Homo sapiens: one gene and its partner. The protein of the gene in region 1 purifies or fractionates together with the protein of each later gene. This does not show direct contact. Each region holds a gene or a part of one and is shown on either strand. Other genes may lie near its edges.

What was found.
Region 2: the proteins of ANKRD36 (region 1) and SEM1 purify together in Homo sapiens (co-immunoprecipitation; one large-scale study listed by IntAct). This does not show direct contact.

What each region holds. Positions count from the first base shown.
Region 1 is NC_000002.12:97,119,541-97,123,368, reverse strand, and holds part of ANKRD36 (ankyrin repeat domain-containing protein 36A), read right to left. Parts: intron 483-3,828; coding exon 376-482; intron 1-375.
Region 2 is NC_000007.14:96,703,156-96,706,983, forward strand, and holds part of SEM1 (26S proteasome complex subunit SEM1), read right to left. Parts: intron 1-3,828. UniProt on the Homo sapiens protein: Component of the 26S proteasome, a multiprotein complex involved in the ATP-dependent degradation of ubiquitinated proteins.

The DNA of each region.
Region 1 (3,828 bases):
AAACTAACATGAAACCCCTTTAGCTAATGTAAGATCATACAATCAAAAGCATCACATTATTACATTGTAAATAACACCACATCATATTACAAATAACAAACATCTATCAATATACAGAGCTTTCTATATATAGAAGCCTTTTATGTGTATAATGTCTATAGAGAGAGACGAATCCTGCTATACACTGTTCTTTATGTTACTCAGTCCAAATAATTGTTTTCCTACCTAAGTGATGATCTGTGTTATTTCTCACTATATCCCAATAATTACAAGTTAGTCTTCTTATTAATGTAATATTTGTGACTTGAGGGACTGCTACCACACTAAAATGACACTCAGGTTTAAAAACGACACAATAAGAACTAAGGTCTGTACCTGCCAAGATAATCAATGGCATTTACATTTGCTTTTTTCTTTAATAAAAATTCCACCATTTTCACTTTTCTTCGACTCACAGCAAATAACAGTGGCTGATATTCACACTGTAAAATAACAGCAACAATTTATAATCACAAAATTACATATTTATCAACTGAACTGAAAACCTTATGTAAGTAAGATCCTGTGAGCTTCAATATATACAATTGAAAGGTCATAAGAGGTAGTCCCTTTCTTTTCCCTCCTCGGTGCTTTTCTATGTTCTGCTCCTTCCCCTGGAAACAACCTCCTCTGCCTCACCACAAGAACTCTGGTCATCTCCAAAACTCACTTCAAACATTTCCCAGTTCCAAGAATCTTTGCTTCTGTCCCAGCATTTAGCATGGCATGTTTCAAGGATTTAATTGTTTCCCACCTGAACCAAGAGCTTCTTGAGGGCAGCAGCTGTATTTTTTTCTCTATGTCCTCAAACTCTAAGACACAGTAATAAATGTTTCAGGTATTTTTATTAATGATCTAAATTATTATCTATAGAGCGGTGTTTCTTAAACTATTAATATATTCCAAAGGATATTTACTTTACCAGAATTTGAACATTATACCCCAAAAGAGAGACTCCATGATCACCCATGTTTGAAAAATGTTACAAAACTGCATTATGTGTCTAGTATTTGAGAAATCTTTTGAACTTCACCTAATCCCTATTTGTAAATACTTATTTTGGAGAATGTTAACATTTGAGAAATGAGAGTTTCAGGGATACAGTTGTGAGAGCTTACCAGTAAAGGTAGAGGTTTCCTCTGGGTGATACACACTTGCCTCATTCTCTTCTATCGATGGTGTAAGAATCTCAGGTGACAATGTCAGGAGCTCCTGAGCACCTGAGCACCTGACATTGTCATCTGAGATTCTGACACGATTGACAGTTCATTTGAAGCCTATCTCTTTTTAATTCGGAGAGCCGGGCTCTGAATTAATAGAGATAGGCTTCGAGTGAACTTTCACTGCTTATTATTAAATAGTCCATGGGTTTTCTCTAGTAATATTTTTATCTTAGCTGTCAGAAAGCTCTGTATGAAATGTTATTCTCAATTACAATCTTAGGACCCTGATGCAAATATTTATGTAATTATAATCTTAGGACCCTGGTACATAACTCCTTTAAAAATCTATTTGTATTCTAGTTTCCAATTAATTCTTACTTTTTTTATTTTAGGTAAAATATCAATCAGAAATAAAAATACAATGGCTTATCAATTAAAGCTCTAATAATGACCTATATGAATTATTTATAGCATAATGAAAGCCACTAAATTATTTGCATCTTTTATTTATTTATTTATTTGGGATGGAGTCTCGCTCTGTCGCCCAGGCTGGAGTGCAGTGGTGCCATCTTGGCTCACTGCAACCTCCGCCTCCCGGATTCAAGCACGAGAAATTCTCCTGCCTCAGCCTCCCGAGTAGCTGGGACTACAGGAGTGTGCCACCACACCCAGCTAATTTTTTGTATTTGTAGTAGAGAGGGGGTTTCACCGTGTTAGCCAGGATGGTCTCAATCTTCTGACCTCGTGATCTACCTGCCTCTGCCTCCCAAAGTGCTAGGATTACAGGCGTGAGCCACTGCGCTCGGCCAATTACTTGCATTTTTAGGAGGCAATGCTGAAGAGAAAAATATAATGTTGTCTGCAATATGCATAACCTATGCAACCATACCATGATTCACCTTAAAAAGCTTACATGCATTCTAATGGGAAGATGATTATTTATGGTATGTATAAAGAAAAATAGTTTATAAAACACCACCATCTAAATTCAAAAGTTCAACCCGATTACCAAAGGATTTATATAAAATATAGACTCTACATTTAAATAAATATAAAATGTCTTAAAAACCTTGAAATATTTACTAAAATATATTATAAAACAGGGCTTGTAAAGTCATCCCTACAGAGGCAAGGGAGATGACCTGAGGAAGTGAAGTACCTAGGTAGGCACAGTAGCAAAATGGAGACCACATGCCTCATAGAAAGGGGCAACCTCTGCACAGCATCCAAAACCTGAGATAGGCTCAAGGGACACCAGATTGGATTCTTGAAGAGAAGCCTGGAATCCAGATCTGTGCACGAGTCTCCTAAACCTTCCATGTTGAGACAATTTGTAGACACAAACTAAACACATGTATGGGACACATTTGGACTATATACCTTGTATTTTTATATTTGCTATGGATATGTCTCCAAGCAATTGTATGTAACACAAGTATTTTCATGTAAAATACTTCCTTTCTTTAGTTTCAGATTTTTTTTTCCAAAATAGGCCCAAGAATACAATAAAAATTGTTACTAAGAGTCATAATACCCACTTTGAGCACTTTTACAACATTCATTCATTTATAATTTATGTTTAATTTTCCCAGATTGTTCACCAAATGGATAATTAGTTCATAAGACTGCTGCAACTAAATTATTAAAATAATATTAAATTATAATTCTAGTTTCTATATTGTAACCTAATTTTTTTATTTTAGGGAAAATATAAATCAGAAATAAAAATACAATGGCTTATCAATTAAAGCTCTAATAATGACCTATATGTATTCTTTGTATTCTTACTAACTTCATGGTTTTCAGTGTTTAAAACTGCTATCCTGATTATGCCACAGTTCTATGTACTTAACTGACATACTGAGGCAGTCCATAATAGAGCTTCAGCTTTAAAAAAAGGTTTAGAATTTTTTGCTATTGTAATTGAGAGAACCCCGCTTTTAATAATGATGTATTGACCTAATCACCAGAATGATAACAAAGAGACTCAGAGTCCTGAAAGAGTCAGTCTCTACTTATTAAAAGAGTCCACAATAGCAAATTTCTAATGACCCTATGAATGGCAGTGAATAAGTGATGGTGGCAAAGAAAAGGTGTTATTCTTATGCTGATAGATACTGCAAATAATAGTCCTTTCCACTTCCCAACCACAGAGGTAGAGACAGGTAAAAGTCAGGCCAATATTATTGGAAAGGAGAAATTTAAAGGAAGCAGCACCTATCTCCAGCTCTTCTAGAGATTTTTTGTGTGTTTGAGATATGGGAATTTATATTACACTTATCTATTCAGTGGTTCTTAACCAGCAGCGTATCAGTGTCCCAAGAAATGTTTTATTGTTGTTGTTGTTGTTGTGTTGTTGCTGTTAGAGGCAGTGTCTTAATCTGTTGCTCTGGCTAGAGGCACCACCATGCCCAGCTTCAAGGAAATATTTTAAAACATACATGCCCAGTAATATTTAATAGTAAATATTAGATTTACCATATTAAAATCTTCAGGGGATATCCTAGACTTAGAGATTTGCTTTTAATTTCCCCAGGTTACTGCCATGCACAATTCTAACTGCGAACCAGCACAGTTGATAATCACTTCAGTCTCATTTCTCACCCACGTGGCAAATTCCCTTTAT
Region 2 (3,828 bases), on another chromosome or scaffold:
ATACTTGCATTATATATTTACAACTGGGCATCCCAAATCCCCTAATCTGAAATTTCATGTTGGTACTCAGAAAGTTTGAGATTCCGGAGGATTTCAGATTTGGGATGCTCAACCTATAGTAATGCATCAGTGCGTTAATTTCCTGATTTTGATGGTTGTCTTGTGACTATGTCCTTGTAGGAAATACACATTAAAATACTCAGGAGTGATGGCCATCAGGTTGGCAACTTATTCACAAATGGTTTAGAGAAAAATGTTTGTACTGTACTTTCAACTATTCTGTAAGTTTGAGATTATTTCAAAATAAAAATTATATTATAAAAAATGAGTCTGCCAATTCAATTTGGCAATTCTTCTCTAGGAGTTTATCTTATAGATTAGCACACACACAAAAAGATGTAAACATATTCATTATCTGTAACAGAAAAAAAACAACAAAACCCAAGCAACAAAAACCCTAAAGCTATAAGGTTATTCACTGCAGCATATTCCATTTTTTTTTTTTCTTTTAAAGGCCAGGTGCAGTGGCTCACCTGTAATCCCAGCACCTGGGAAGACTGATGGGAAGACTGCTGAGGCCATTAGTTCAGTACCAGCCTGGGCAACATAACGAGACCAAATCTCCACAAAAAATTTGAAAGAACAAATTAGGTGAGATGGCACATGCCTGTACTCCCAGCTACTAGGGAGGCTGATAGGGAGGCTGAGACAGAGGATCACTCAATCCCAGGAGTTCAAGGCCGTAATAATCTGTGACAGCGCCACTGTACTCCAGCCTGGGTGACAGAGCACCAGAGCAAGACCTTGTCTCTTAAAAACACACACACACACACACACACACACACACACACACACATACATAAAAGAACCAAAGAAAAAACCCTAATATCTATCAAGAAGGGACTAGTTAAATAGACTATTTAAGATGAACACAATGAGGGCATGAGGTAGATTTTTATATTGATGCAAAAATGTACCTGAGATACATTAAATAATAAAAATCAAGTAGGAGGAAATAGTATATATCGTATGTCTTCTGTGTATGTATTTAAAGGATACATACAAACAAGTACAATTTATAAATACATTCTGGAAGGATACTAAAGAAAAAAACATTTAACGTTGGTTATCACTGGGACATAAATAACTTTTTTGGGGAATTGTAGAGGGAAACTGTGTTTTTACTTTTTAATTTATACTCTCATTAAGTTTAAATTTTTACCATAAGCGGTTACTTATACAATTATCCTATATAATATACTACAAAAATATTTTAAAGAGGAAGTTAAGTAACTAGCATGAGGTGACTAGCTGAAAGTTTATGAATGGTAGATTTGAACCTAGGCCTAATCCTAGATTCATCATGCTTATTCTATCCTGGGGTTCAAAAACTTTCTTCTTGCACACAATTATCAAAAATGGACATTCAACAGGTACTCTTCGAATCATTATACAGATTACACATTTTTTCTTAAAAATTTTTAGTAACATGAGTTCTCCATTTCTTGCTACCACCATGTAACTAATTCAAATGTTTAATGGTTATGTCCACTATATTACATTTAATAATGCAAAAACAGCAAAAGCCCTTTTTGGCACTAGGTAAACTGACTAGCATGGTGTGTGACATTATCAATACTGGTCACATCTATCTTCTACATTTAAGATTCTAAGGAATCCTCCTATTGAATGTTTAGTCCTGTTGGTATATGCTGTTCACATAAATATTTCTCAATAGCATTTTTCACAGGGCAGTTCTTCCTCGTGCAGGCACAAATATAAAATCCTTGACCTCTACCCACTAAATGCTGGCAGTTTTTCTACACTCCTACCTGTCAAGTCAGTGTGACATCCAAAAACACTCCCTTGGTTAAGAACCACTGTAAGATGTCATACTTTTTAAGGCACAGGTGATAATGCCTCATTTATTCCAGAATGCTGGCAGCATTAGGGGATCACCAGTCTGTTGTCTGCCTCAACAGACAGATTCCCATCATAACACTGTCTTATCCAGAAATTTCTCCAGGGGCCAGAGGGTGGGAAGGTGGGTAGTATTCTGCTCCTGATTTCTTCAGACTATATAGAAATTTCACCTAATACAGAAAAAGTATAGAATACTTAGTATAATATCACTCTTGTAAACGCTATTGCTGCTGCAGGCAAACTCAATTTCATTCTAAATATTCTAAAAAAGCTTCTCTCTCAAAAAAAAAAAAAAAACCCTTTCAATTCTGGCACAGGAAGAGAATAAAAGAATCTAAAGGAGCACTTGTTCTCTTCCCTCTTTTACTCGAATCCACATCTAATTGTCAGAGAAACTAATAAAAATATTTTTTAAAACTCTTTCAATAATTTGATATGGAAAAGTAGTCAACGTTTTAAATAAATTAGGCTGGGCGCGGTGGCTCATGCCTGTAATCCCAGCACTTTGGGAGGCCGAGGCGGGCGGATCACCAGGTCAGGAGATCGAGACCATCCTGGCTAACACCATGAAACCCCATCTCTACAAAAAAAATTAGCCGGGCGTGGTGACGGGCACCTGTAATCCCAGCTACTAGGGAGGCTGAGGCAGGAGAATGGTGTGAACCCAGGAGGTGGAGCTTGCAGTGAGCCGAGATTGCGCCACTGCACTCCAGCCTGGGTGACAGAGCGAGACTCTGTCTCAAAAAAAAAAAAAAAGTTTTAAATAAATTATAGACTACTTCAGTTTTTGACTCTATCACCACCAACCTGACCGTATGATTTGAAAAATGAAATCTTCTCTAGACTTTTAAGTTGCCCTCCGGTCCTAGAATTCTAACCATTTCAAAGCTTCCAAAATCATATCAAAATCAATCACACCCAGGACCTTGAATGTCTTCCTAATAAAGGCTGTTCTAAATCAGTTTAAGTAGTCAAGAAGTTGGAGGCTGTATATCACAAAGATCCTAAATATGATTTTTTACAGCTCCTGCTTAATGACCAGAAGATTACACACCCACCAATTAGAATAATTGTGAGGAAATGCCAATGTAGCACCAATTCACAGGCTATAGAATGGGGGAAAAAATAAAAGCAGCATTTGTACCTTCAGAGACTCCTTCCAGATGTTGCACTTTACATTGAAGGGCTATTGAGAAGAAACTATGCTGACATGGTGCCTCACACCTGTAATCCCAGCACTTTGGGAGGCAGAGGCGGGTGGATCACCTGAGGTCGGGAGTTCAAGACCAGCTTGACCAACATGGAGAAACCCTGTCTCTACCAAAAATACAAAATTAGCCGGGCATGGTGGCACATGCCTGTAATCCCAGCTACACGGGAGGCTGAGGCAGGAGAATCGCTTGAACCCAGGAGGTGGAGGTTGCAGTCAGCCGAGATCGCGCCACTGCACTCCAGCCTGGGCAACAAGAGTGAAACTCCATCTCAAACAAACAAAAAAAAAAAAAAAAAAAAAAAAAGAGAGAGAGAAGAAACAATAAAAATTCCCTTTCCTTAAAATGATTAAATGAACATCCTACCAAACATATTCTTATGCAAGATGGGATGTAGCAACGCCACTCCCAAAAGAAAGACCCACTCCCAAAAGAAAATCTATTAGTCGAACCACCAGTAACGACTTTCATGTGGCAACCTCTATACTCCAAGTTACCCGAGAGTGGATAAAATCCACTTTCTGGAGCACTGACACTCAACAAAGCGTTTGAAAGTAAGATCTGTTATAGACTGCAGAGATGTTCATAGGCTGCCTTAACAACACCAATTTTAATTTGTATCTGTTAGTGAATTTGTCAATGGCATACTTACAAGAAAAATAATTTTCCAAAGTACAGAAAGAACTTGAAAGTA